Linked DNA regions of Homo sapiens: all the other regions are linked to region 2. Evidence: fine-mapped expression QTL. A gene starts in region 2. Each other region holds a variant in brackets. All regions are shown on one strand. Distances are between the middles of the regions. Region 1 has its middle 84 kb from the start of ZNF648. Region 2 holds the start of GLUL (glutamate-ammonia ligase). Region 3 has its middle 120 kb from the start of ZNF648.

Region 1 (10,536 bases), 250 kb before region 2:
ATCAAATGCTGATCTACCACCATAAATTGCATTCTAGCATGTTTACTTGGAGTTTGCATGGTTTTCTTTATAAGCTCTCCTGGTGATCCTAAGGTGCAACCAAGGCTGACAACCATCTGCCTTTCTTATTTCTGACCCTTTAAATCAATCTGAAGCACTCAGGATTGCTGGCCCATAGAGAGAAACTGAAAATCCCAGCTTGCCTTAGCTACCATTACCAAAAACCCAGCTCCTTCACCTGTTCCTAACTAACTTTTACTTTGTTCTCATCCTTCTTGGCTCTCGGGTCCTGTGTTGCAATGGGTGGAAACAGCCAAGTTTCATCTCAGGCTGTAGAACCCAACCCTGATCTTTTCTCTAAACAAGCAGGAACCCTAGGAGCTAGACAGAGGCTGGGATGCTGTATCTTAGAAACCGGAGATGCTGGGGCTCCAGGAATCTTGCAGAGGGATGTAGTGCATGGAGGTGAGGGAGGGATCCAAGGGAAAAATGGAAGTTAAATTCATGGGCAACATTCCAGAGATTCATCATCAAAGCAGAGGACCTAGGCAAGGAGACTCTAGGATCATGATCCAGGGAAAACAGCACAGAGAAGGGAAGGGTTTGTAGCAGAGTTCAGGTGGTGAAGCCTGGAGAAATTCTCTAAGGTGCAGATAATACCTGCAGCTGTGGCTTACTATAAGCCTATGACCTGAGGCTGGGTGAGGTCACCCTGTAGCCTCCCTGGACCTAGCTGTTTACCTGCAGAGCTCAAGGAATTTGTGTGGTTATCCTTTTGCCACCTCAGCTTCAAATAAAAGGTTTGGCAAAGGTTTGGCTTTGGGGAGCCTAAAGCAGGATTTTGGAGATTAGCCAAAGAGACTACAGAGATTCCTTTCTTTTTTTTTTTTTTTTTTTTTTTTTTTTTGAGATAGAGTCTTGCTCTGTCACCCAGGATAGAGTGCAGTGGCATGATCTTGGCTCACTACAACCTTCGGCTCCCGGGATCAAGTGATTCTCATGCCTCAGCCTCCTGAGTAGCTGAGATTATAGGCATGTGCCACCACACCCAGCCTTTTTTCTTTTTTTTTCTTTTTTTTCTTTTTTTTGAGACGGATCCTCGCTCTGTCGCTGAGGCTGGAGTGCAATGGCGTGATCTTGGCTCATTGCAACCTCTGCCTCCTGGGTTCAAGCAATTCTCCTGCCTCAGCCTCCCAAGTAGCTGAGACTACAAGTGTCTGCCACCATGCCTGACTAATTTTTTGGTATTTTTTAGTGGAGATGGGGGTTTCACCATGTTAGCCAGGCTGGTCTTGAACTCCTGACCTCAGGTGATCTGGCCACTTCGGCCTCCCAAAATGTTGGAATTAAGACATGAGCCACAGCACCCGGCCCCTATTTTTGTATTCTTAAAAGAGACCAGGTTTCCCCATGTTGGCCAGGCTAGTCTTGGCCAACTCCTGACCTCAAGTATCTGCCCACCTCAGCCTCCCAAAGTGCTGGGATTACAGTCATGAGACGCCATGCCTGGCTGGGATACTGAATTTTGAATCAGAAAATCCAGACTTTACAATAGTCAAAACCATATCTTATTTGTCTTTCTGCTCCATTACCCAGGATTTTACTTAGAACATCAGTAGACACCTGAAAACATTGGTCAAATAGAAGTGAATAAATGATTAAAGAACAAATTAACAAGTAAATGAAGCCCGACATAAATAAAGGCCCTGCTAATCCACCAGCTACACTCGTGTGACAAAGGCCCCAGAGATACCCATGCTCTATATCCATGGAATTGTGCCATGGGGCTGGCTTACTGGGGATTCTATTTACCTGTGGTCTTGACGGGCCTCCCTGGAGAAACAGTAACCTGACATCTGGAGAGTACATTTGGCTCTGTGAACTAGGTCAGATCTGCAGACTTGTGGTTTACCCACTTAGACCCATGCCACACACAGCAGGCCCCTGATGAGAGCCCTGGCATCCTTGCCTTGTGCTTCTTCACCATCCCCTCCCAGATCTCACCTGGCCTCTTTGGTCCCAACTGTGTGTGTGCCTCCTCTCCTCTCTCTAGCTTCTTGCTCTTCTCTATGCCCTTTGCCTGACCCTGCCTCTCTGGTTCTGACCTTGGCTCCCCTCCTGTTTTGCAGTGAGCATTTACCCTTCAGATCATATCTGCAGCTGCCACTCTGGGCAAACTCCCTCTCCCTCAAACTTGGCCTCCATGTCCATTGGCCATAGGCTGATTTTCCCACTGTGCTTGGTCAGGCTTCATGGGTGGAATTCAGACACCAGGACTGGGCATCCTGGTCAAAACCAGGGGCAAACGCTCTCACCTGCATTCTTGGGCGGGAGGCAGGGGTCCCAGGCGGCCAAGAAACTCACCCCATAACTGAACAGAGGTGGCATGCCCACACTCCGTCCCTGGACAAGGGAAGCTCAAATTCAAATAGTATACAACATTGTGCTTCTCACATAGTAAAACCAGTCTTTCAGAAATGTGTCCTGAATTCCTAAGGGGAGGAAGGGAGAAAGATCCTCCAGAAAATAAAAAAAAAAATTCCAATAAAACGAAGTTGGTCCACTGGCAATATAGTACAAAACAAAGATCTTGGTAAGAAAACATCTCCCTGATTTTGGGGTTCCCATGAAAATAACACAGGTCCCCATGAAAATAACGTAGATGAAGCAGCAGAGAACTGACAAAGGCTGTGGAAACATGGAAAGAGTAATGATAACGCAGAAATCAGAGGTGAAGTAAAAGCACAAGTGAACCTTCACAAAGCTGGGCTAAGTGATATTAACGTAGCTGCTATTAACCAGAAATTCCCAGTCAAGTCAACCAGGCTTGGCAGTGGTGGCCACCAGAGGGCGCTAGAGTAGAGTCCGTGGGAGAACTTCAGCGGTGGCCCTGCAGGTTTGAGAGGCACCTTCCCGGAGGATGGATTTGAAGGGCTGAGGGTCCAGCAGTTCTGTGGGTTGGCGGCTCACAGGAGAAAGCATGAAGACATACTTCCATCCTCACACCCCCGAAGGTCCTTGCCTGGACTGGAAGCTAAAGAAGCGCATGCTACATTGTTTTCCTAGTGACAAAAATCCCAGCTGGCCTCTGGTTAACTTTTCAAACAAATGGCACTGATGTGATATTGGGCGAACTCTAGGTGTCACTGACCTAATAAAAAGAAAAAAGCTATTTGCTTCCCATTTTCCGATGCAGTGAGGATTTCACAGTGATCTCAAACACAGTGAAATACATAAAAAGAGCCTAGCTTAATGGGGGCACCCAGCAAATGCCCAATAAACATCTGTTCCCTTTCCTCAATAAACCCCATTTGCCTCTCAGCCTGCAGCCTCCCACACTGGTGGACCCACGTGCCCCTCAGAAGTGAAGCTTTTGGCCCCTGTAAAGCAGCAGCCCCTCTGGCCAGAGAGTCTTTTGTCCCAGAGCCTTTGTTGTTCCAGATTTCTCACTGTGAGGCCTCAGCAGCTGCCAGGGGGCCACCCCAGGAGCTGGAATCAGAGCTCAGAAAGACAGCAGTCCTTCTTCTGCTCCTTTCTGGGCCCGCATGCCCCAGCCCCACACCCAGCCTCAACCACACTGCCCTGCACACCCTCACCGTGCCCCCACTTCTCCACAATGTGTTTCTAATCTGCCCAGGAACAGTCACCAGCTCACTTTTCCTGCCTGGTCTCATTAGCGTGGCCTCTGGGCCTGGGCCTGGGTGTGTAGCCCAGAGGCTTGCACGGAGGTGATCAGATTGCAGGGAACAGTATGTTTCCCTCCCTGCCTCTGCTTGTTTTCTTCAGGGGCCAGGGCCAGCCAGCTGAGCTGTCTTCCTCTTCCCCGGCTTCTCATCCTCCCTCACACATGGTCTGACTTCAGTGGGTGGGGGGATGAGCAGAGGGTGTGACACACACGAGTGTGCATGACTGGCATGTAGGGAGTGTGAGTTGTGGGCAGGTTTCTTAAGGGGAGGCAAGGCTGCTACTACTCCGGGAAACAGGCCTGGGAGCCAGGGGGAGTGGAGGAGGAAGGCCAAGCTGGGGATTTGTACAGACCAGTTCTGGCCAGATCTCTTAAAATGTTTTGTTCTTGCATTGCTGCTGCTGCTGCTGTTGGTTTTTTTCCCCCCTTCCCTGTGCTGAGCTGTCATTTCTTAGTCCAGCCAGGCCCTTATGAACTTCTGGTTCCTCTAAACGGTAAACACCCTGGTTTTCCAGACTACACCATAGCTCTCTTTTCTTATTTGCCTTCAAAATACACTTTAAAAAAAAAAAAAAGAAAGTAGAAAATGGCAATATCAGTGATAAGGGCAGGGCATGCACTGAAAAAGAACAGTTCAATCTAACATTTATCGAGCCTGCCACCTTCCTCAGCTTTATTCTCTCCTTTCTTGTTCTTGGTAACAGCAGATAAGAAATCAGCTGTGGGTCAATACGTGAAAAATGTTCACTCTTTTAGAGTAGTATTAAAATAAATATTTTCAATGACAACATTAAGCAGTTAATAATTAAAGCATGTGCATATGTATACTTAAAAGGGGCTGGAGTCCCTTCTGTCCAAATCAAATTTTCCACAAGCGTTGGTAACAAGGTGGCTGGGAATGTTGAGATGTGAGACTGGCCTTCCAAGGATCAGGAGGGCAGCTGGTGGTGGGTCTGCTCTCTCTCATCACTCTCAGTGGCGACATCACCGTCCATCCTCCCCAGTACTAAGATCTGCTTCAGGAAAGAGCCTGAAACCAGCCACATGTATCTCATGTTGGTGAAGGAAAATCACAGTAGTGGTCCTCAGTGGGACTCTAAAATGACTTCACATCAGCCTCATTTGGTAAATGAGGAAACTGAGGCTCCAAGAGGTGATGTGTGTCACCCAAGTTTCCATAGCAGAGCTAGAAAAAGACCTTGTTCCTGGGGTCCTGGGAGAGGGTCCTACTGCCCAGCTCTGACGGATGAAAGGAAGGCTTTTTTCCATGGTACCAGCTGTTGCTATGGGCAACCCTAGAGATCACTCTGTGGGGTGTGGGATCCTTCGGGAGAGCTTGTGCTTCCATTTGGAGAGACTTCACAAAGAGGGTGTGCCATGGGGACTAACATAAAAAATCAAGAGTGGGGAGACAGAAAGAGGAAGGTCAGCAGAACTGTCCAGATTTCTACAATGCCCGCCCTTCTTAGGCAAGCTAAGCCATCTACGTGTTGGGGGCATGGTTGCTGGCCCTCCGGAAACCCCTCGGATCTGAAGAGCAGACAAGAGCATCTGTCATCTCACAGAGATGCCTTGGGATTTGAATACTTGTTTTGTCTTTGGCCTGGAGTTTTACTCTTAGAGCTCCTTGCCCAGATATTCCATGGTAACCCACTGTCATATTCTGCATAGTCCTCTGAGATAAATATGGAGAAATTATGGAATGCAGGGGAAAGAATTCTGAACTTCAAATGAGAAGAGCTGGGTTTGTGTCTGGCTTCACTCCTTACTTGTGTCTAATCAAAAGCAAATCAAAATTGAAAGTAAGAGCTAAATTTTTGTTAAGGTAGGATTTTAAGGCAATTGTTAAGTCAAAGATGTATCTTAAGCACCACATTCAAAACCACGTATTCTCGTACATCACTCTTACTGTATTTTCTAGACTCTAAGAAGCCATTGACTAAGACACAGCAGCGAGTTAATAACAGCTTTTAGGGGGAAAGGAGAAGAAAAATGTTTCTCTGTTAAACATACACATCAATTGTAAGACACAGGATCTCTGAAATGTCAGGTGTGAAGATCAAGCTTCTTGGAATGAAAGAAACAGTGGTATTGTTAACATTTTGAAGGAAGACTGGCTCAGGGAAGGGCAAAAGACATTTTTGAACACACGGCTACTTATCGGGTTAGTAGAATGTTCCCCAAATTCTCCTTTGTAATACCTACATCCTCTTTGGCTGTTCCCCTCCTGGTCCTCAGTCTTTTGTTTACCTGTCATTGAAACTTTCCACCAGTTTGGCCAATGGCCATTGTGTCAACTGCAGCTCAGACTTGTCCAGGCAAACACCGGCTCACTGACCAGGTGCTCACCAAGCCTCAGGGTACACATACCAGCCCCGCGGTACCATACCCTCAGGGTACACAACCACACCCACAGACACCTGGTAATACTGCTTCATACTACATTAATTTTCCTGTAAGCA[A/G]ACTTTCTGACTTAAATCATTTTGTTTCAGAAGTAAAAGTGATAATTTCACTTTACATGCAAAACCTATATCACTTCTGTAGATACAAAGTAAGCATAAAAATAGTAAAATGGGCCAAGCACAATGGCTCACACCTGTAATCCCAGCACTTTGGGAGGTCGAGGCAGGCAGATCACTTGAGGTCAGGAGTTCGAGACCAGCCTGGCCAACATGGTGAAACCCCGTCTCTACTAAAAATACAAAAATTAGACGAGCATGGTGGCGCATGCCTGTAATCCTAGCAACTCAGGAGGCTGAGGCAGGAGAATCACTTGAACCCAGGAGGCAGTGGTTGCAGTGAGCTGGGATCATGCCACTGCACTCCAGCCTAGGTGACAGAGCCAGACCCTGTCTCAAAAAAAAAAAAAAAAGTAAAATGGAAACATAGAAACTTAAAAAAAAAAAAACTATGTTGATTCTAATACCTTGTGTGTAGAATAAATCCAATCAATTTATGAAAATAATTTCCTCACTGAGAAAAATGAAACTGTAATCTTTCCATAAGAAAGGAATATTCAACCCCACGTACTAAGTTTAAGAGAACAGCGAGGAGCTATGTCTGTTAGGGCCAGTTACACGTAGGAGCCACAGTACCAGCTGCCTGCAGAGTAGCTGTGTGACCACAGGTCAGTTTCTCAACATCTGTGCGCCTTAGTTCCTTGTTTGTCAAACAGAAATGAAAATAACACCAATTTGGGGGTTATTTCTGATGACTAAATGAGTTAATGCATGCAAAGCACTTATGACAGTGCCTGGTATTTAGTAAGGTCTCAATACATGTTAGCTATAATGATAATCAGTAGTCAGGGTATTACAATTAGTAGTATTCATGACTTAAAATTCCTACTCACTGGAGTTGGAGTCAGAAAGATTTTTAAGACATTAACTGTTTTCTCTCATAAGACTGGTTACTCAGGGTTAGTTTCTAACCAAAATGATGAAAGTAGCTGTTGCCCAACAACTGCTCCTTAAAGAAGCCATCTCCAGGATGGAGTGTCAGAATATGTCCAGTTAAATCTGGTCATGTTTGGAAAGTGATGGAAAGTGGGTTCCTAATCTACTCCCTGCCACATTCCAGTTTAGAAAAATACTTATATATTTTTTTCATTTTCCAAGGATCACTATGTTCAAAACAATTTTGAACTAGTTATTCAGACGACTTCATTACCATGTGCTTCAGATAATGACAATAGTTTTTGATAAAATTTGAGTCTGGTTGAACGCTTGCTTGACTAGAAGACACATGTGTGGGTCCTTGGTGTACTGTCTGGGCCAGTGACCCCTTGCTGAGCATGAACTATATGCTATGCAGGGTTAAATTATTTAATTCTCATAGTAACCCAATGATTTAGGTACTCTTTCCCCTTTTTACGGCTGAGGAAAACCGAGGCACAGAGTGGTCAAGTGACTTAAGATTACAGTGTTAATCATGGGTTTGAGACAGAATTCAGAGGCCTTCCTCGGTGCCAGAACCCTGTTCTCCAAACTCCTCGGCCTCGTGGGAGTGACAGTGTAATCTGAGGCCACAGCCCTGCCTTAGCTTTTCCCATGGGCCCTGGCCTCAGAGAAAGGCACCAGGGTGGGATGTTCTGCCCCTATAGATTTCTGCTGGCCCAGCCCTACCTGGAAACCCAGATGATGAGCAAAGAAGCCCCTTGCATGGGTGTGAGTAACAGCATGTGGGGGGTCTCCAATGGCCCCAGGCAAGAGGAGGACACCGTGGTTCCCTACCCGATTCCCATCCTTCCTTCCTCCTACTTCCTTCTCCTATTACTGTTAAACCCTACCCCTCAGTGGCAGGCACCAACTTTCCTACCTCCTTTCCTCTACCAGCAAACTTATCAGGTTAGGCCGGTAGACTATGTTTGATAAAAACTGAATTGGCACATAGTAGGTCTCTAAGGTGTATGTGAGCAAATGATAAATATAATTGGAATTTTCTTTGACTGTATACTCCTTCCTTATGGGCAAGAACTCTGATTTCTCTGTTTCATTAGAGCTTATTATAGTGCCCAGCACATACTAGATGCTCAAGGAGTATCAGTTACTGAATGTCTGGTGCAAAGGAGCTGGGAAAAAATCTAAAGGAGAAGGGATGAGTTTGGGTTTTATTTTTAGTGCCAATGTTCAAAAATATTTTTTAAAAATGTTCTACCAAACCCAAAATATTTCATTGAACACCTGGGACATCTCAGCTCTGGGAAGATCTTCCTATTACATCTCACTGCCTCCCTATTCCTGCTTCACTCTGGAAGTCCTCAGGTTATTAGGGAAAGCTCTAAAGGTGGAGGGCTGCTGGCAGGGAGATAAACATGCAGGGACAAGAGGCAGGAGTGGACGAAAACTAAGAGATACAGCAAAGATGTACGAGAGTAAGAAAACACTTGCATTCCTTCCCACGCACAGCCAGGTTGCTAGGAAGGACCTAAGACCTATGTCAGCCCTTGCCACCCTTACCAGGCAGTGACCTTGGAGAGGGACTTCAGAGACCAGAGCTTTCATACTAAAGGAAGATTGGAGGTTGTGATTATTGTTCACTATCCGAGGTCCAACTTTGTTCTGATTCAGTCTCATTTCTTTCACATCTTGACTGTTACTGAGTACTGGGGTTTCTTTTCAAAATAACAGAGATATGTGAACTCAGGAGAAGCTTCAGGAAGAAGCCTTTGAGGGGAACCTGGGGTTAGGTTTTAGAGGAAGACAGAAGAAGAGGAGGAGCTGTCTTTGATAGGAGCATCTGACGACAGAAGATCTCTGTGGAGGTGCTTCTGAAAGACTGGTAACAGAGGGCTCCATGAGAAAGCTCGTCAAGGGAAGGGGGAAGTGGTTCCGAGAAATGAGCTCAGAAGAGCTCTGACTTCACGTTGCCATGGTGGCAACATCCTTGCTCCATTACAACATACATCACCTAACACATGACAAAAGCAGTCTGCAAAGGGGAAGGGACGGCTGAATCAAGCCCTGCTGAGTCACTGTAGTTAACTTCCCACTCTCTGTCCACTGCATTTCTTTAGAGCTTCTTGAGACTGGCCCTCACGGCCCAGCTTTGGGTAAATTATTGGCTCAAGAATTCAGCTTTGAATTCAATCTTCCCAGATAGGATCCTCATGGCCTCTAGTTTGGCCATTCAGTCTTTCCAGGTAGGTTCCTCATGGCCTCTCTCTTACTAGGCCATTACTCTCCTTGTTTGCCTTGACTCCTGAAAGCTGTGTGTTTTGGTATTTTTCCCCTACAAGCAATTTTAACTTTCTTTTTTTGCATAGACCAGCCATGGCTCCCTGTGATTTCAATCCCAGCTCAATATCACATTCCCTCAGACCATGTTGTTTTAGCCTGGCCCTGACATTCTTACAGCTAATTTATTCATTTCTTGCCCTGAAAAACCTCTAAGTCTTAGCCCAGCCCTGGGAACAAGACAGGATTAGTCTTGTGTGGATTTTTGAACTTGACAGTTGAAGACTTTAGATACCTAAAATCAAACTCACTTGTGACCCAGGCCACTCAATGCTACAAGTACACAGAGGGACAGTCCTTGGGTATGTTGCTATGTGACATACAACATGCATGCTCATTAGGATCCCTCATGAAGGCAGGCACTGACATACTTACTCCTTTGAAACCCTAAATTTAGACCAAAGGAAATGTCACCTCAAATTGGGCCCATGGTCCATCCAAATCAGGCAATAACAACAGCCAACATCTGCTACATGGTGCTGACATTCTGCTAACCACTTCTCAAGCATTTGCTTCCTTACTATGGTTGTTCTCAAAACAATCCTGAGGGGTGGATATCATCATCAACAGTTTACAAACAAGTAGGGAACTTAGATAAAGCACGGATCACCCTTGGACAAGTTTGAACTGCATGGGTTAACTTACAGGTGAATTTTTTTCAACAAATATATTGGAATATTGTTTGGAGATTTGTGAAAATTTGAAAAAAACTCACAGACCAACGGTGTAGCCTAAAAATATCAAAAAATTAAGAAAAGGTTATGTCACAAATACATAAAGAATAAAAAGATGTTAGTCTATTTTATCATTTACTACCATAAAATATACAAATCTGTAAAAATAAGTTAAAATTTATCAAAATTTACACACACACTTACAGACCAGTGCCATTTGCAGTCAAGAGAAATCCAAACAAACATAAAGATGTAGTATTAAGTTGTCACTGCATAAAGTTAACCGTTTGGAGTCACCCCCTGCTGCTATTGCAGTGAGCTCCAATATCATGAGTATCCACTTAAAACACTGTGTGATGCTGATCATCTAGAGTGAGCAGTTTGTCTCTCCAGTAAATTGGTTCTCACTTATTTTTCATCATGTTTAGTGCATTCCTATAAA
Region 2 (9,482 bases):
ACCGAGTCAGAAAAATGAGAGAAGCTGTTAATTGTACATCTGTAGGAAGACTCTGAAAGACTTCAGTTTTAACTAAACTCAGTTACAACCAAGTCACATGGGAGTGGATTTAGAACAGGGCAACTTTCACCTTATCTGCATTCTGGCCACCTCCCAAGCACCAAATGCCAGGCACTTAACCCTCTATTCACAAGACAGCTGCTTCTGGTTGTCAGATTTATTCTTCATTTCTCAGGCACTTGGAGCCATTCTATAATTTTTGAGAAACATTTGTCCATTGGTTTACATTTGTCCTGGCCTACATTCCAGGCAGGAAGGCTGTTACTGGGGACTCCAAGACCGGCAAACAGATCTGGACAAATCCAATGCTATTTTATGCAACCAACAGAGAAGACCATAGAAAGATGGGCCATATTATCTCTTCCTCAAAGCAGAAGTTCAGGGAAAAGAATCACTCAGATTCTTAAAATAGTGCTGAAATTGCCTAGTCTTCCCAATGCTGATTTCAGAATGTCTTCTCCCTCCCCTTCACAGCATTCACAGATTGAGGAGGGGTATCCATAGCTGTGCTATAACACACCTGCAGGCCTTCGATTGTACTTGAAAACTTCACATAACACCAGCTTGTTAGGGTCCTTACGGAAGGGGTCCCGAAACATGGCAGCAGGCACGAGATACATGTCACTGTTGGAACCCTCAGACTGTAAAGTACTAGAGCCATCGAAATTCCACTCAGGCAACTCTGGGGCAAAAAGAGGGAAAATTACATTTAAAACATACAGGAGCTTTCCAAGCAATGCAAATACAGCCAGCCCTTCACTCACCTTCCCATCTCTAAATATCTCTTTTCCAGGAATTCATTAAGGTATAAATGCCATCATTAATATGTATACCCTGGCACCTGTACCTGATCTTATAGCCCTTCCTATTTGAGTTCCAAGTAAGACCATTGTACCAATTCCTTAAAAGAAATATATCAGATACTCCCTTCCCAAATGTCTTCCAGGAGACAAGCTGAAGCATTCTGTTATCACTACCATCCTATCAATCACTTAAAATATTGAGATAGTGAAGGATTCTGATTCTTCCATTAGGTAATGTGTTGCATCCTTCTTATGCCCCCAGTGTATTCTGGCAAGTTATGTCCTTATTTTATAGATGAGGGAACAGACGACTAGCAGGATGACTTACTCTAGGATGCTCCCTTATCACCTATCCACCTTTCCCACTGTTTTGAAGGCTGCTTGGTCTCTCTAGCTGACTGAGTTCTCTGAAGGCAGAGACGAGACTCTCACTTTGTATCTTCAGTGTCTGTGCACTATCATCTGCCACATAGCAAGTACACAATATAGGCTTTGTATTATGATCATTCACTTACTCAAAAAGGAAAAGTAAACTACCCTAAACTAGGTAGGATATGATACTTTCCTCTGGCCCCTTTCCAGAAGAGGGAAGACTATGGCTTGTTCTAGACTGAAAAATGAAGGTCACAACTATAATCTAACTGTAGCTCCTAGAGGGATACGCAATTAGTTTAAGAATTTCCAAAAGTGGCATCAACTAAAAATTAGTCCTATTTAAAAACCATTGTAGAGCATTTGCTTCACATCTAGAAGCCAGTGATATGAGTATTAAACACAGTTTTCTAAGAGTTTGTAAACTAGATGGCATTCTCAGGTTAGAGCAGTGGTTTTCTGAGGGTGCCTTAGAGCCAGCTAAGTGGGGATGTCCAGGTCGGCAACCTCTAAGCCCCATGCCAACTCTCCATAAACCAGACTTAGTTTTTCTTCAATACACTGGCCTACGTGCACAATTCCATTGAAATAAAGGGTTCCATCGTCGCTCTGCTTTGAGGCAGTGTAGGAGCTTAATGTTGACTGAATAAAGTCTGAAAAGCCCTGCCTTAGAAAACCTTTACAAACAGAAGAAAGAGGCCTAATCCAGAGGCTGAGTCAAAGGCTGCTGCCCACCCCTCTGCAGATCCCACCCAGCATGTGCTCCACTCCACATTGCTGTCTCACCTTCCACACACTTGGGCTCACTGTCCAGGGTCCGGGTCTTGCAGCGCAGTCCTTCTCCAGTACCATCGATCCAGATATACATGGCCTGGACTTTCTCACCCTGAGGCAGGGACATGTACACCTGCTTGATGCCTTTATTTAAGTGGGAACTTGCTGAGGTGGTCATGGTGGAAGGTGTTCTGGAGAAGAAAAAAAGAATAACATTGTTAACGCCCACTCCAAACTGATCCCCTGCAAAAATGGCTCAAGAAGGACGACTGAATCAAAAGTCAGAGTGTAAGTGCCAACTCCTTCCCTTGTGGAAGTCAACACACAAAAAGTTATGTTTACTCACTCTTTCAGGGGGATTAGTTTTATAGTAGGCAAAAATCTCCTTTATAATAGGCTGTAAAACTGATCACCACCTTTTGAAACAATTAACACAGATGCCTGCTAAAGAAAAGATCAGGCCCTTGGTAGTAACTCAATGCCTCTGCATCCCTGAGCTCACAGGCTTAAGTTCCACAGCTACTGCAGAACCCAGGCTTCCAAGCTAGAACTTATACTTGTGAGGACTAAGGTCTATTCCTTCAGTGTAGCTGAGGTTAACACTAAACTATCCAAATACTAAACTATCAGAGGAAACAAATCAAAACCAATACACAAATTTACAAAACATAGAACTTCTTCCAATATAAGTAAAATCCAGCCACAGAACAGGCTTGGCTTCCACAGTTTGTTTTTCTCTTTGTCTTTCATCCTAGCTGTGGTCTTAACTCAAACCCACCGCCCCTCCCCACCAAAAGAAAACTCATTACACATTTAGATTTGAGGATGAAACAAGGTTACAATATATTTTTTTAGAAGGCTAGCAGTTTCCTACACAAAAGCTGATTCAAGCCAGATTCTAAGGGGAATGCTGCCATAATTTCCATAGGTCTCATGCAAAGTCTCACTTAAGATAGTGGGCAAGAATCACAACATTATGGAATTCTACAAGACTTGTCAAGTAATTAGGAAATTTCCACTTCTAAATCAAAAAGATCTGGAAATTTAAAAGCCATGAGGCATACTAATAACTGCCAGCCACTACCACAAAACCTCCGAAAGAAGAGAAACTCTCAAGCCACAACAGCCGAAGAGGAAACATTCTCTCTCTCCCTCCTCCCTCCGTGGACCAGGGTGGCTAGAAAGGGAACACATTGTTCTCCTCCAACGACTAGGGCAACGTTCTGAAGTACAGTGGCAAAGTTTCTACGGGCAACCGTCCATGTTTGCCCAGCTGAAAACATAACTGCTTCTCCCTCAGCCTCACCACCCTTCCCCTTGGGGAAGACCAACACCCCAATATTGCCTCTAGAAGACTCAGCCGGCCAAATCCTACTTCCCACCTCCATCCCAGAACCCTTTAGCTCCCGCTAAAAGCTACAACCCACCGAAGCGGGCAGATCACCTGAGGTACAAAGTTCGAGACCAGCCTGGCCAACACGATGAAACTCCCGTCTCTACTAAAAATACAAAAATTAGCCGGGCGTGGTTGTGCACGCCTGTAATCCCAGCTACTCGGGAGGCTGACACAGGAGAATCGCCTGAACCCCAGAGGCAGAGGTTGCAGTGAGCCGGGAGATTGCACCACTGCACTCCAACCTGGGTAACAGATAGAGACTCTGTCGGAAAACAAAAAAAAAAAACCTACAACCCAATTTCTCGGCTGTCCTCTCCAACATGTTACACCACCAATATCATGCACACTTTGTCCTAAGCCTCAGTTTCGGATCTCTTGCTCTTTTCCGTGAGCCGAGTTGCATGCCAGCAGCCTAGTGCCACTCTATCAACTGCTGCTGCTGCGGTGCCAAGTTTACGTGGGGGAAATGGATTCTGAAGTTTTCAGCAGTTTCTGCAGCTCCCACCAACTCCGGGGTCGTCCTCCCTGCCCCCTCACTCACCCCAGCCACAGAAAGTCAAGCGTATCGTTAGGGTTGCCCTCTTTAACCCTTCTCTTTTTGGAGTGGCGTTCGCGCCTCTCCTCTTTCTCAGACTCTAGCTGGTCCAAGCACCGGAGCTTTCTGGGAGAGGGCGATGGAGAAGGGGACAGACAGCGGCCGGCCCGGGGGGTGTCCGAACAGGCAGGTTGGTGGGTTAAGGTCTTAATCTTGACTCGAGATCTCTCCCCGGAGTTCACAGAGTAGGCGACGAAGCCGAAGCAGCTGGAGCGCGACCCGGAGGAGTCTGACTTCTCGTTGTCTTCATAATTTTCATTCGTTGCTTTCTTCGTGGACTTGCGGCTGGGGGAGGATCCCCGCTTCCCGCCCCCGAGGGAGTTATAATTATCCACTTTGAGAGCAGCCCCTTCCCACTGAAATGTCCCTAAAGTGGGCGCCCTGCCCCTCGGGCCCCCGTCCGAATCTCAGGGCCTCACGGAGGTGGCCATACCCTGCCGCCGAGGGGTTGGGGGGTCCGGGGGAGGGTGGGGGCGCAGGCCGTAGGGACTGCGCGCTGCTGCTGCCTCCGCCCGGACCGGCTTCTCCACTGACTGCGCCGAGGCCCGGGCTCTCCATTGTTCGGTCACATTGGAAGGCCCCCGGGACCCCGAGGCGGGAGCCGGCCGCCCAAACAACGCTCACCGTTACACGCCGCAATCGAGGCGTCTCAACCATCGCCAGAACCAGGACGATTGCTCCGAAGGCCCCACCACGAGGAAGGCAGCCAGGCGCCCGCGCCAACCAAGCGCCTTGTTTGCGCTCCACAGGGGACCGCACCGCCACTCCATCCACAGCGCAAACAAACCACTGCGAGCCCCAGGGCGCAGGCCGGCCCAACGGCCTCCAGGGGCGGCGCTTCGGCCGCAAGTAGTGAAAAGAAGATCAAAACAACTCACCCCGCCCTTCCCAGAGCCTGGCCAAGGGCGCGCCCCACCAGCGCCAGCCCCGACGGGTCCAAGCCACCAGCGGCGGAAGCACGCGGGAGGAGCACTCATGCCGGATCTCAGGCATGGGCCGGAGAGGCCGCAGCGTAGGGCTGGGACTGGAGGGGCAGGCAGCCGAAAAAAGAGGCTGGGCGGCGCGCCTCGCGGGGTAGCAGGGGCGGCGCGCCTCGCTTGCGTGACACCGGGCCGTCCGGGGGCTTACCTGGTCGCCGAGCAGGCGGGCGGGTAAAGCTAGGCCGCGAGAGCGAGGTTAGGAGAGGAGAGGAGGCCGCAGTACTGCTCACACGCTCCGCTCTTCTCCCACTCTCGACTCTGCAGAGCCGCCAGCAGCCCCGCACCCTTTATCCGCGGCCCGGGGCCGCCCCCGGTGCCCTGATTGGCTCCCAGCGGCCAGGAGCCCGGGCCGATCAGCTGATGCGGTCCCGGGCCCCGCGGCCATTGGGCGAGGAGCCCGGCGGGCGCCGCTGGGGTGGGGGCAAGCGAACTGGGAAAGAAAGAAAGAAAGAGAAAGGGGCGTGGGGGAGGGGCAGGGCGGCGTGGGGGAAGGGAGCGGAGCCGGGAGGGCTGAGGGCAGAGGGGCGAGTTGCCGCCAGGCCGGGAAGCCTCGGCTCGCCGCCCACCCGCCAGCTCGCCAGGTGCCGCCCCACGGCCCCCAACCCGGGGTCCCGAGGCTCCCAGCAAAGCCCGCCCTGGACCTCTGCCCTGCCGCCTTCACGGGGAATAGTTTTACGAGGAGAGCTCCCTGGGGAAATGCGGAACCAGGGAAACCGAATTTAGCCTTTTGTTGCGAGGGAGCCTCCGAGCCCCGCTTCCTGCGGGCAGGGGTTAGCTTGAGAGGGAGCGCGGGGCGCGGGACCCGAGGGAACTTTGGGCGGGCCTGGGCTAGGGCGGGTGCCGCGCGGGCCTGGGGACAGGCCGGGGTTCCCAAGGCCTGGAAGAGCCGCCCGCTCCGGCTCTCTTGGGTCTGGGGAAATAAACAGAACTCTGCCATTTCACATTTGAAATCAACGTGCTGTTTCTCTAATTTTACAGAGAGGATTCTGGAGGGCGGTAGAAACTAAGTCTGGAGACCTGTCTCATACTGCTGGCCAGACCCTAGGCAGGTCTTTCAGGGCCCAAGTTTCCTCATCTGCAAAATAAAGTGGTCATCGAAAATGACCTGTGGAGCCGCCCACTAGATTTGAAATTCTGTGTGCAAACTGCCCCCGGAGCAGCTGAAAGGAAATCGAGGTGTTCACTTGCCCCCTTTGAAGTCCAGGGATTGTCAAGAAATTCCTTTAACGAATTCTCCCTGATTTTGCTTTATCAAGTGCGGCTTCTTGTTAATCTGGAAAATGGGAATACATACCTCTCCTCTCAGCTTGCCGTGATGGTTGGGAAAATGTGTATGTGAACACAATATTGAAATGTACCTAGAGACACAACATAGGTAGGTAGGTAGGTAGGTAGGTAGATACTGCTATCCGTACTATTACTCGATCATTCTATTTTTAGTGCCTGAAATCTACCTGATGGTGTCCAGATTTTATTGCTTCTTTCAGTTTAAAGAGCAAGAATTTATGCTTCCAGTGCCTTTGGAAGAGGAAGGGAAGAAGTTTGTTCTGGTTATGTTTTGTACCGCAAATGTGGAAAAGAAATGTTGCCTGCAACCACACACACATAACTTGGCTTCTTTGGTCAACATCCCTTTCCTTTAAGAGTGTATAACACTGTAGTGCTTTTACATGACAGATGCAGCATTCATCTCAAACAGGGTTTTTTGGGATGTTTCAGACTGGTGACATTTTGGATTGGGTAAGGTGCCTTACAAATTCCTTGTTAAATTTCAGTGCTGCCCCTTGAAGCATTACATTGTGGTGGCTAAAGGCACGGCTGCAAGTCAGGTAAACCTAGGTTCAAATCTGGGCTTTCCCTTCATACCAGCTTTGTGTTGGCCAAATCACTTAGCCACATGAAGCCTGTTTCTTTGTCTATAATAAAAGAGGGATAATCATTTTTACCTCATAAAAGGATTAATTGTGATAGCACATGCAGAAGAGATTGAGTAGTCCTTGGTGCATCGTAAATGTTTAGAAAACAGCAATTATAATTATCATAGGCCAAGTTCTATAATCTGAGGTGATTGGATTCTTTCTTTCCCCATAGCGACTTTTGAATACAACTTTTCTGACTCAGTGTAATGCTTTACCATTCATTATATCAAACTGGACTTAACCTTGGTAACACAGTGAGCTGTCTTCATCTCTTTCTGTAAAGGTTTGAGTTTAAATGGTCGAGGAAGGGGAGCAAAGGAGGAGAAAAGTGATATTTTTATTTTAAAAGATGTTATTAATCATTTCCAGATACCAAACTACCGAACCATAAGCCAGAGCCTCTGCTGCACACACCACCAGCCCCTGAGGTGGGGATGACAAACATAACAGAGAACGGAATGGTAAGGCGTGAGTGCGGTTCTGCAGGCTTATGGTATTTCTGCCATTTGAGTGCCTGCTTCCCTTCCTAGATGTCTTGACCTCATTGAGCAGTTTATTCATTGTCATATCCCCCAGTAGTGTCCACGGTGAGTGTTCAATAAATGATATTTGTTAACCACACAGAAGTGACAGCAGCACCATCAAGAGAACATGTGCTTTGAGCTGCTTTTCCAAGAATGGAAATGGATTTGCTTTGATCCATTCATGTGACCAGGGGCACGCTTTGTAAGGGTTAGGAACATAATACATGACCACTGACTCTTTCAGGAGTGAACAAGAGGCCTTGTCCTCCTTGGCCAGCCCCACATTTACTTAAAATGATGAAATTAGGGCGCAGATGAGTCCAAGAACTGACCAGGGAGGCTTGAGCATAGGCGAGAAGTAAAAGCAGAAGAAAACCCTTAACTGGTTCACCCGCAGAAACCCAGACTGTACTTTTAGAGAAGTTAAAAGTAAAACAGCCTGTTTCATCCAGTTTGACTTTGCTGTGTCTGCTGCCCTTTCTTCTCCTTCCCCTTCTTCCCTAAATTGCCACCCGCCCCCATTCTTCACCCCCACCATAAAAAGAGCATTAGAATGCTTGAACCCATGAACTTTTCTGTTTCTTGGTACACACCATATCAGTGCTGACAAGGGGTTCCATTGCATGTGCTTTGAAGTCATATTTTTCTCTCTTAGAGTAGAATTGCCATGTCCAAGGGGTGGGTGGAGTGGGAGAGCAATTACAGGGAAAGATTTTGTTCCAAATCTGCAGAAATAGCCTGAGATTAAAAGTATTTCTTCAATGTTGTTCTGCTGCCTGAAATAAAAGCTTTGTATTAGGATTTTGCTCTACTCCCAAATCTTATCTCTATTAGGAAACAACTTTTCTCTTTTTTTTTTTTTTTTTTTTTTTTTTTTTTGAGACGGAGTCTTACTCTGTTGCTCAGGCTGGATGCAGTGGCGCAATCTCGGCTCACTGCAACCTCCACTCACTGTAACCTCTGCCTCCCGGGTTCAAGCAATTCTCCTGCCTCAGCCTCCCAAGGAGCTGGGATTACAGGCGTGTGCCACCACACCCAGCTAATTTTTTGGTATTTTTAGTAGAGACGAGGTTTCACCATATTGGCCAGACTTGTCTTGAACTCCTGACCTTGTGATCCGCCTGCCTCGGCCTCCCAAAGTGCTGCGATTACAGGCGTGAGCCACTGTGCCCGGCCCTTTCTCTGTCTTTTAAAGGATCCATTCTCACTCTGCAAGTATGAAGTCCTTTACCTGGGGATCTGGAGTGCCTTCCCAGGGCCTGTGTGGTTGCCTTATACACATTAGACACAAAATTTAGGGTAGGGCTCACATTGACCAAACCTTTTCTGTTTAGGAAATGGAGTTTTCCCTGTGTATGAATGATTTCAATAGGCATTCAGTGAGACCTTTAAATCATGTTAAAGAGATACAATTGAGACTCAGGGTTGGGGAACACCCTGGAAACCCAACCCAGAATTGTAAAATATTCTTTTAAAAATTATTATTATGTAATAAACCAACATCAGTTCTTTCCAAAAGAATGGACCATAGTAGAATCTTAAACCAAATCAAAATAATAATAATAAAAATGAAGAAGAAAAGAAATAGCTCTGGAAGTTGATAGCATTATTCTTAAACCATAATTTAGGGAAAAGCTGTAGTTGGCCAAGCTTTCAAATTTCACTTTATACAATTAGAGAAGGAAAGACTACATTTACATTATACTTCAGTTCAATAACTAGCACTAAGAATGGAGGAATTGTTCTTTACAGTTTTTGATTGTTTGATATTCTTCAGTTCAAGACAGGAAATTGGAAATTCACGTCTCAGCCATATCTGTAGCCTGATTTGAGTTTTGTAGGATGCGTGCTGAAATCAGTCAAATACAAGGAACACTTCATTTCCCCAACTGCGTGTTATGATGGAAGGTTTGGGTCTGTTTGAGCTCTACCCTGAATCATGTCTCTAGCAGGAAACTACGTGGAAAGTTGGGAAGAATCAAGTTCATCTTAGTTAACAACCTGGGGAAAATGTCCTATTGAGAAAATTAAAGCCATACAATTCTAGAATTAGATCTTC
Region 3 (10,536 bases), 210 kb before region 2:
TTTAAAAATCACTTTCACATGCCTCTCTGGAAGTTTCGTTGGATGAAAGGGAGAGTGAATATTTGCAAGTATATGGCAAACCAAACTCTCGTATCTCTGAATTTACAAATAAATTTTAAAAGGTGGAATTCAGTTGGAGAATTGCCCATAGGGGCTACCCTGACCAAACTCATGAGTGTTAAACCATTGAGTTTTTAGAGTTCATTTTTGCTGTAGCAAAGCTTCTCCTATTCTAAATAATATCTCAAACCAGAGATTCTGAAGCATATTTTTAAAAAAGAATTTGATATTTGGGTTTTTTTAAAGGATTAAACTATTCTTAATGGGCAAAATGAGAACTTTATTGGACTTAACCTTATTTTGTAATTTAGTACTTTGAAATAGCATATGGGGAAATACCATAATAATTTCTATGCTTGGGGCTTATGAAGGTCTTGCAGTAGCTCTGCTTACCAGAGCACTGAGGATTCACAGCTTCAGAGTAAAGACAAACAGCTCATTGTTGTTTCTACAGGGTCTTTCAGCCCTTTCTCAAATATTCTTTCCATCCCTGTAGCTTTCTACTTTTGTTTGGGGATTCCCTTTTCTTTGAATGTTTGCCCTAACTTCTCCTTCAAGTTCAGGTCAATTTAACTTCTTCCAAAAAGACTTCCTAGATTCTCCAAGGAGTGATAGATTTTATTCCTCTACATGTATTATTTCATAATACCTATTACATTTATAACTGACCCTTCCCATGCCACCCCTCAGTACAAATTGTGATGGATTTGGATGAATTCCAAATTGAGTGAATAAACCAGTGAGTCCATCTAAGGCCCCTGATTCCCACTAGCTCACCCTTCTCATTTCATAGTGGCCATTTAAATTCCAAATGGCACCAGTTTTTACCCGTATACATATAATACATACACATGCATATGCTAAATTGTAGCTTTTAGAAAATAGATACTATTTCTTACTCACTGTTGCCCTCACCATAACATGTGCTCAGAATGCAGAAAAAGTTCAATGCATTTCTGAATTTTAGTAAAACCATCTTTTTTTTTTTTTTTTTTTTTTTTTTTTTGGCAGACACAGCCATGTAGTATCTTTTAAATTATCATGTAGCCCTGCTCCATTCTACAGAGTAAGGGCTCCCACGACAGGTTTGTTTATTCATTCACAAATAAATTCAAAGCCAGGCATGTTGTTTCATACCTGTAGTCTCAGCCCTTTGGGAGGCTGAGGCAGGAGGATCACTTGAGGCCAGGAGTTCAAGATCAACCTGGGCAACATAGCAAGACCTAGTCTCTACAAAAACTTAAAAAAAAAAATAAATTCAGAAATCCTCCCTCTAAAGTAGGTACGATCCTGAATAGTGTGTCCTCTGTAACTATCAAGACAGCTGCAACCACCTGCAGAGTGTGCCTACAATGTGCCAGGCTCTGTGTGAGTGACTCACTGTCAGCCTGAGCCTCTGGCCAAGGCTCAGCTTTCCAGAACTTCTTTCTTTTCAGGGAAATGTAACTCCCAGCATCTGGAGAAGCTAATTACTCCTTGTTCATGTTTGCTCTTGCACCAAGACTTTTTTATTTTTTATTTTTAGGAACAGTCTGTTCATGTTTCCTTGGCTCAGATCTCTATGTTCCCATACCATTATGATGTAACTTAGAATTTATTTTACAGAACTGAACTCAATTCAATTTTGAAATTGTATAAGAGATCTACTCCACCCCTTTTCTTTCCATTAAAAAGCAAGAGGGATGTGTAGAAGCAATTTATTAAGGGTCCCTGCGGCTAGTCCCAGACCGCTATTTCACTGTTTCCTTATAGTTCACTGAGAAGGGAAGGGAGAACAGGAAAGGGGAGACCAGTTCCTTCCTTCCTGAATGATTGTTTGGCCAATCCACAGGAACGCCACACCTCAGCCATCCTACTCCCATCAGGGAAGCAGTACTCAGAGAGTCATCCCAGAGCCAGGGCTGGCTGTGTCAGGCTACGATGACAGTTCAGATTGGGAGGTGAAATTTGGCCAACAACAGGGAAGGTGTGATAGGACGTGATAATTATTAGAACATGACATTTTGAGAATAGGATCCAAGTCTGTTTAATATATCTTCAGCACCAACACAATGACTTGGCTTAGTAATAGCTCCAGAATGATTAAGTGAATGAATGCCATGTTCTTGCTTTCTGCAAACACTCTTTAAAAAGCATCTCCTTCATGTCTCTCTTCTGTATATCAGGAATCAGGAATTTGATGAGGCATACAGCTCATCAGTCTGGAAGCATTCTGCTAATTACAAAAGCCCAGGATGCTTGTGTGGAAAAAGCACAGGTTAGAGAGGGGAGAGTAGAAAAGGGTTTTTCCAGAGCCTTTTCTTCTTTTTTTTTTTTTTTTTTTTGACGGAGTCTCACTCTGTGGCCAGGCAGTAGGGCAATCTCGGCTCACTGCAAACTCTGCCTCCCGGGTTCAAGCAATTCTCCTGCCTCAGCCTCCTGAGTATCTGGGATTACAGGCACACACCACGCCCAGCTAATTTTTGTATTTTTAGTAGAGATGGAGTTTCACCATGTTGGCCAGGATGGTCTCGATCTCTTGACCTCATGATCCGCCAGCCTTGGCCTCCCAAAGTGCTGGGATTACAGGCATGAGCCACTGTGCCTGGCCTTATCCTTTTTTTTTCTTTTTGAGACAAGTTCTCACTGTCACCTAGGCTGGAGTACAGTGGTGTGATCAAGGCTCACTGCAGACTGGACCTTCCAGACTCAAGTGATCCTCTCGCCTCAGCCTCCCTAGTAGCTGGGATTACAGGCATGCACTATCATGCTGGGCTAATTTTTTAATTTTTAATAGAGACAGGGCCTCACCATGTTGCCCAGGCTGGTCTCAAACTCCTGGGCTCAAGCAATCCTCCCACCTTGGCTTCCCAAAGTGCTGGGATTACAGATGTGAGTCACCACGCCCAGCCCTCCAGAGCCTTTTCAAATAGGCTAGAGCCCACTTCCCTGTATGCTTAGTTTCAGGTTTCTATGTCATCCTCCCAACATGTTGAAATCTGTGAGAACAAGGATCAACAGTATACGACAATGGTTTAATGGGCTCTGCAGTTGTAAAACCCTGGATGGTTCTCCACTGACAAAGAGGAAGTCACTTAACCACTTTGACTTTTAATCCATTATCCATAAAATGAAGGTGGTAATAGTATCTGTCTCATGAGGTTGCTAGGAAGATTAATTTATATACGATGCACATAAAGTACTTGGCCCGGCCCCTGGGACAGAATAAGGTCTGAATAAATGAGAGCTGTTGTAATTAATTCAAGGCATAGCATGTGGCATTTCATGGACATTTTTCAATTGCTTGAGTAAAACAGACCCAGCTTGGAGAAAGCAGAACAAATCAGAATGAGACAGTCCATCAGGATTCCTTCCAAATTTGTGATCACATTGCAGCTCATCCCTTTGTTTTGGCTCAGTCATTTCTCCAATTGTGAGCAACTTAGGGCTCTTCACAATAGGGAGAATGGGCATATTCACAGGGGCAAATTACAGTTGGAGGAAGCCTCCTGGAGGAATGGTTTTCAGGGGACTTAGGTCCTGGCTAAGTGCCTTACAGCACTTGAAGATTGTTGAGGAGCCATTCTCCACTCCCCCTAGTTTTATGAAGGTATACTTGACAAAACTATATATACTTGCAGTGTACATTATGATGTTTTGATATAAGTATACATATTGAAATTAAATAATTAACATAGCAATCATCTCACACATTTATCAATTTTTGTGGTAAGAACACTTGAAATCTACTGTTAGCAATTTTCAAGTAGTCAATACGTTATTATTAATTATAGTTATCATACTGTAAAAGAGATCTCCAGATGTTATTCATCCTGTCTAACTGAAACTTTGTACCATTTGGCCAAGAGTTCCCCATTCCTGCCCCCAACCTCCCAGCCCCTGGTAACCACCATTCTATTCTCTTCTTCTATGAGTTCAAAAAAAAAGTTTTTTTTTTGAGATGCAGTCTCGGTGCGATCCCAGCTCACTGCAACCTCTGCTTCCCAGATTCAAGCGATTCCCCTGCCTCAGCCTCCTGAGTAGCTGGGATTACAGGCATGCACCACCACGTCTAGCTAATTTTTTGTATTTTTAGTAGAGATGGGGGTTTCACCATGTTGGCCAGGCTGGTCTCGACCTCCTGACCTCAAGTGATCCACCTGCCTTGGCCTCCCAAAGTGCTGGGATTACAGGCATGAGCCACCATGTCCCGCCTGTGAGTTCAAATTTTTGAGAGTCCACATATGAGTGAAATTATGTGATATTAGTCTTTCTGTGCCTGTTACTTCACTTAGCATAACATCCCCCAGGTTCATACATGTTGTTGCAAATGACAGGATTTCATTTTTCAAGGCTGAATAGTATTCCATTGTGTATATATACTACATGTTCTTTATCCATTCATCTGTTGA[T/C]GGGCACTTAAGTTGCTTACGCACCTTAGCTATTGTAGATAATGCTGCAAGAAATATGGGAGTGCAGATATCTCTTTGAGATCCAAATTCCATAGAGTTTTTTTTTTTAACCTCAATTGAGAGCAAAGTAAGAGGAAATGGAGCCTACTGGCCCCTGAAGAACTTCTTGCTAGACAGGAAGAAATTCCTGGAAGTTATTTAGCCTCATCAGAGGGGGCAGTTAATATCCTTCTCAGAACAGAAAAATATTGAACTTTATTGAGGTATAATTAATATACAACAAAATGCACTCCTTTGTTGGATGGAGTTCAATTAGTTTTGACAAATGAATACACTCATGTAACTACTACTGCAATCAAGATTTAGCACATTTTCATCACCCCAAGAATTTCTTCTTTCCTGTCTACAGTCCACTTGGGTCCCGAGTGATTCTGTTATTACATGTTAATTTTGCTTATTCTAGAATTTTATATGATGGAATCACACAATATGTACTCTCTCTTCTGTGTTTGGTGGTGTTTTGCTCACTCACGTTGTTGCATATACCCATTGTTTGTTCATTTTTATTAGAGTATAATATAATATTGTATCTTATAGCTTTTTAAAATCTGTTCACCTGTAGATGGACATTTTAGTTGTTTTTCAGGTTGTGGACATGATAAAGTTGCATGTGTGTGCAAGTCTTTGTGTGGATATATGTGTTCCTTTCTCTTGGGTAAATACCTAGCAGTGAAATTGCTGGGTGGTTAGGTAAGAAACTTTTAAGAAATTGGCAAATAGCTTTTAAAAATAGCTGTATCATTTTATGTTCCCACCAGCAGTGTGAGTTCCAGGTATTCTACATCTGTATTAATCAAAGTTCTCCAAAGAAACAGAACCAATGGGAGATTCTATGTATGTATATAATTTATTATGGGAATTGGCTCACACAATTACAGAGGGCAAGAAGTTGTCTGCAAGCTGGAGAACCAAGAAAGCCAGTAGTGAGTCAGGAGTACTACTCTTGTCCAAAGATAGGTGAAGATGGGTGTCCCAGTTTAAACAGAGAGTGTGAATTTGCCCTTATTTATTTCTTTTGCTCTATTTGAGTCCTCAATGGATGAAACAATGCCTGCCCACATTGAAGGGTGTTTTTCTTCTTTCTACCAATTCAAGTGTTAATCTCTTCTGGAAATATCCTCACAGACATACCAGAAAAAGTTATACCAGCTATCTTGGCATCCCTTAGCCCAGTCAAGTTAACCCATAAAATTAACCATCACAACATTCTCACCAACAGTTGATATTTGCAGTAGGCAAAATAATAGCTCCCAAAGGATGTCCATGTTGTAATCCCCAAAACCTGTAAATATGTCACCTTACATGGCAAAAGGGACTTTGTAGATGTGATTGAGAATCTTTTTTTCTTTTTTAGTATTTTTTTTTGAGAGAGAACTCTTCTGTGTTGTTCAGGCTGAAGTCCAGTGGTGCAATCATGGCTCACTGCAGCCTCAACCTCCGGGCTCAAGCGATCCTCCCACTGGGACTACAGGTATGCACTGTCATGCCCAGCTATTTATTTTATTTTATTTTTTGTAGAGAGAGGGTTTTGCTGTGTTACCCAGGCTACTCTTGAACTCCTGAGCTCAAGCGATCCTCCCACCTTGGCCTCCCAAAGTGTTGGGACTATAGGTGTGAGCCATCATGCCCAGCCTGGTTAAGGATCTTGAGATGAAGAGATTATCCAGGTGAGCCAATATAATCATAAAGGTCCTTAAAATATGGAAGGTGGAGGCAGAAGTGTTAGAGGAGATGTGAGGATGAAAACAGGTCAGTGTGATGTGGTCATCTGCTAAGGAATGAGGGCAGCCACTAAAAAAATAGAAAAGTCAAAGAATAGGTTTTCTCTTAAAGCTTCCAGAAGGAATGCAGCTCGGCAGACAGCTTGATTTTAGCCCCGTAAGCCCCATTTCAGATGTCTCACCTCAAGAACCGTAAGACATTAAGTTTGTGTTGTTGTAAGTATGTGGTAATTTATTATAGCAGCAATAGGAAACTAATACATTTTGTTGGTCTTTTTAATTTTAGTAATTCAATGAATATGTATTGTATCTCAGAATGGTTTTAATGTGTGTGTGTCTATCTAACGATGTCAAGCATCTTTTAGGAGCCCTTCATATATTTCCCGTAAAATGTCTGCTCAAGTCTTTTGTCCATTTTAACTGGATTGTCTTATGATTTAGTTGCAAGAGTTCTGCATATGTCTTGGATACAAATCCTTTGTTAATATATGAATTGGTACTATTTTCTCCCAGTATTTGGCTTACTTTTTTATTTTCTTAATGATGTCTTTCAAAGGGAAGAAATTTTTAATTTTGATGAAATCCAATGTATCAATTTTTAACTTTTTATGCTTTATGCTTTTTGAGTCTAATAAATTTTTGACTATCCTCAAATGGCAGGAATTTGGATGTAGGTTCTTTTCTAAAAGTTCTACAATTTCAACTTTAAAATTTACTTCCTTGAACTTTTTAACGTGAGTTGAGATGCTTTGTATGAAGCCAGAGGCTTTGTTTCAGAGAATCTTTTCAGGCAGTCTTATAACTCCATTAACTCCGTCTCTGGGTGATAGACACTAAAGCAATCACTTCAGCACTTTGGGAGGCCGAGGCAGGCAGATCGCCTGAGGTCAGGAGTTTGAGACCAGTCTGGCCAACATGGTGAAACCCCGTCTCTACCAAAAATAGAAAAATTAGCTGGGCGCGGTAGTGTGCGTCTGTAATCCAAGCTACTTGGGAGGCTGAGGCAGGAGAATCGCTTGAGCCCAGGAGGTGGAGGTTGCGGTGAGCTGAGATTGCACCACTGCACTCCAGCCTGAGTGACAGAGCAAGATTCCATGTCAGAAAAAAAAAGAGAGAAAAATATGAAAATATGCTTTTTTGCGCGTTACTCTTTCTGACTACTGAAACATAAACTAGCATTTACTGCATTGTGATGCTCTGCCAGACAAACTTTCCTCATCTATAAAACTCGGTTCATTTCATAGATGAGAAAGCTGAGATTCATGGAGTTTAACTACCTGCTATAGATTATACAAGCACAATCAGTCCAGAATTTAAGTTCCTGTCTCATGGATATACTTTGAACTTTCTCATCTTGATGGTATGACTTCTTACGCTTGAAATATATTACCCTTTTTTTCTATGAAAATTATTATTTCTCTAAAGTCAAAATGCATTAACCATATTAAATATGGGCTCTTTCTTCTCAAGCGCCTGTCAGATTGTGAAGGGAACAATCCAATGCTCCTTTTTTCTTTCCTTAGGGGCAGAGGTTTTTGGCACCGTTTGTATCTCCAGTGTCCTGATTCACTTCTGTGAAGAGCAAAGGCAACTGATGGATCAATGCTTGGAGCAAAATGCAGAGAATCACTTCTTTGGAAGTGATTAGCATCTGACATTCTAAAAATGGATGAGCAGAGGGATTAGCCTTTATGCAACTGGGACCCTGAAAAGCAAGTATTAGGTTGGTGCAAAAGTAATTGTAGTTTTACCATTAATTTCAATGGCAAAACTGCAGATGCTTTTGCACCAACCTATATATACATGAGCATACATAGACATTGAGGAATGTATATCACTACACAAAGCCACCAACAGCCATGTTTGTTGGAGGAAGGATCGCCAAGGATCTTTTCTGTGTCCTCTTGGGAGATACAGGAGTGGTAGAAACAGGCCCCTACATGGTGAACACACTTAACCGGTGGCATTCTGACCCTCTCACTGCCCTACCATGGCTTTCAGGCTAATTTATTGATTCTCAGTGCCTCAATTTTCTATTTTAGTGACAGAAACAGTATTGTTTATGTGCTAAACTGACTCCCTATTTACTAGCCCCGTGATTTTGAACAATTTGCTTTATTTTTCTGTGTCTCATTTTCTCATCTGTAAAATGTAGCTGCCATGACACTGATCCAACATGGTTATGATAAGGATTTAATGAACTAAGATGGGTAAAGCTCATGAATGCTGCCTGGTATATAGCAAGGGCTCAATAAATATCTTCAGTTATAGGACAATTGTACATACATACATACATATATATATACACATATATAGATATGTGTGTGTGTGTACCTATATATTTTTCTCAAATGTGACAGAACTGCTTGGTTGTCCTTTTCCATGTAACAAACATAGTAATATAAATAAAGTAATAGTTGGGAAAAAACAATCTTACAATAGTCCCATAAAGTACTGAGCCACAGAGAAGTTAAATATAATGCCCATGTTTATAGAATTCGGAATGATTGCACAGATTACACAATACTTCTTTATTTTCCTGTCCAGATCTGATAGCTTTAGGTGAAGTGGGGAGAATGAGTCATAACTGGCAGGTATCGGAGGGGGGCTAATATCTCTGGCTGCTTTGCCTTAAACACATGATTTATTCCACCCAGCAGTGGCTGAGCTGAGCCTTGAAAACAAGTTTGCCTGGTTATATCCATGCTCACTCTGCTGCTCAGCCTTCTTAGTGCCACATACGGTCAGGAACCCTCCCTCAACAGTGAGATGTTTGTGGGTTTGCTGGTTGACACTGGAAAGGAGAGTGTGGTGACAAAATGAGCTAAGGTGAGAGCAGGGTGTTTCAAAAGCAAATACTGCCTTCTTTACAAGCTTGCCAACTCTCAGAGGAAAGACTGTGATTCTGTCTTTGTGGACCATGGAAGTTCCCTGCACCTTTGTCTATTACAGGACTGTCTTGTCTTACTTATCTGAATGCCCCTAGTGCCCAGCCCAGAGCCTGGTGAATGGTCAGTGTTCCATAACTGTTGAATGGCACTAGATACCAACCATCTTAGCCCTGGAAAGAGCTTGAGTGATCTAAGTTGGAGGGAAGCTCAGAAATAATAACACCTGAACTCCTGCTGGATACAGGAATCTCCTCGCATTATAAATCAAAGAGTGTAGTGGTTTAGAGCATAGGATCTGGAAACAGACTTTCCTGGGTTTAAGTCTCAGCTCCATCATCCCAAATCCTGTAAATATGGGCAGTTTATTTAACTTCTCTGTGCCTCAATACTTTATAGGGATATTGTAAGATTTTTTTCCCAACTATTATTTTATTTATATTACTATGCTTGTTACAAAGAAAAAGACAACAAAGCAGTTCTTCCCCATTTCACAAAAAGTTTCCAATCAACACCAATTACATGGTGATAAATAACTGGAATGGTGACACCTTTGGGTCAAGACTGGCAAGGAAAATGCTATGGTTCATCTCCAACAAGAATATGGCACATTGGCCGGCACAGGTAATGCCAAAACTGAGTCCTTAGTGCTCGGCCCAGATTTGGATCTCTTCTCTGAAGGTAGCAAATCAGGTAAAATAATTGGGTTTTTAAAAAATAAGTTTAAAATGAAGCTCAAGTTAAAAACCCATGCTCTTGACATATTTCCTTTCAAATTTTATATAAAACACACTTTTCCACTCTAATAGCCCAGATTTTTTCTTTACACAGCCCATCACATGGTTGCAGACAGACTCTTCTGCCTTAAGATGTAAACATAGGGAAAAATTGATGACATCTGCATAATACTCTTTCCACACTCTGCTATTACATGGAAAATACAAAACTTTTTTTAAAAAAAGAAAGAAAGGTTCCATCTTAGATTCTCACAACCTCTTGTTCCACAGTTTATGAACCTGACTCTGATACTAAGTTGGCAGTGTGTGTAAGCAGATTTTTGTTTTCAGTGAAGGAAACCTGGAAAAAGATGGATTGAGCTCATTTTCTTCCAAGAGTTATTGAATGGTACATGCTCCTCAAAGCCCTCATTCTCTCTAACTAGAGCACATTTCAGAATCACACAGCCTTCCTTATAATGCTGGCTGTCTTCAGTGGCAAACTCACAGATCCATCCCAGTTGGCTGTTGCGGTTTTTGTAGCTCACACCTTGAACCATGTGGCAGCCAGTGAGCATGATCCGATCTTGAACTTCACCATACTGTAGGTTAACTACTTTGTGACAAAGAAACGCCCTGCTAGTGGTGCCTGTGCACCTAGTAGAGATGAGCTGAGTTCTGAGCCATTGGTCAGGATTAT

Evidence for each region. PIP is the estimated chance that this variant, and not a neighbour inherited with it, causes the effect.
Region 1: its variant is fine-mapped to the expression of GLUL in whole blood (INTERVAL, PIP above 0.99).
Region 3: its variant is fine-mapped to the expression of GLUL in whole blood (TOPMed, PIP above 0.99).

The regions. Positions count from the first base shown.
Region 1 is chr1:182,140,505-182,151,040 of GRCh38, forward strand. No RefSeq gene overlaps it. Among named protein-coding and RNA genes, the nearest start is that of ZNF648, 84 kb to the left of the region's middle. RefSeq lists a silencer at 2,870-3,046 and enhancers at 3,055-3,723, 3,724-4,391. The variant A/G (reference allele first, on the strand shown) is at 6,148.
Region 2 is chr1:182,386,551-182,396,032 of GRCh38, forward strand. It overlaps GLUL (glutamate-ammonia ligase), which reads right to left and starts at 5,240. Exons shown (of 7, transcript NM_001033044.4): 1 at 5,129-5,240; 2 at 2,022-2,200; 3 at 581-742. The coding sequence starts at 2,187. RefSeq lists an enhancer at 1-313 and a silencer at 4,976-5,655.
Region 3 is chr1:182,172,498-182,183,033 of GRCh38, forward strand. It overlaps the pseudogene YPEL5P1. Among named protein-coding and RNA genes, the nearest start is that of ZNF648, 120 kb to the left of the region's middle. The variant T/C (reference allele first, on the strand shown) is at 4,452.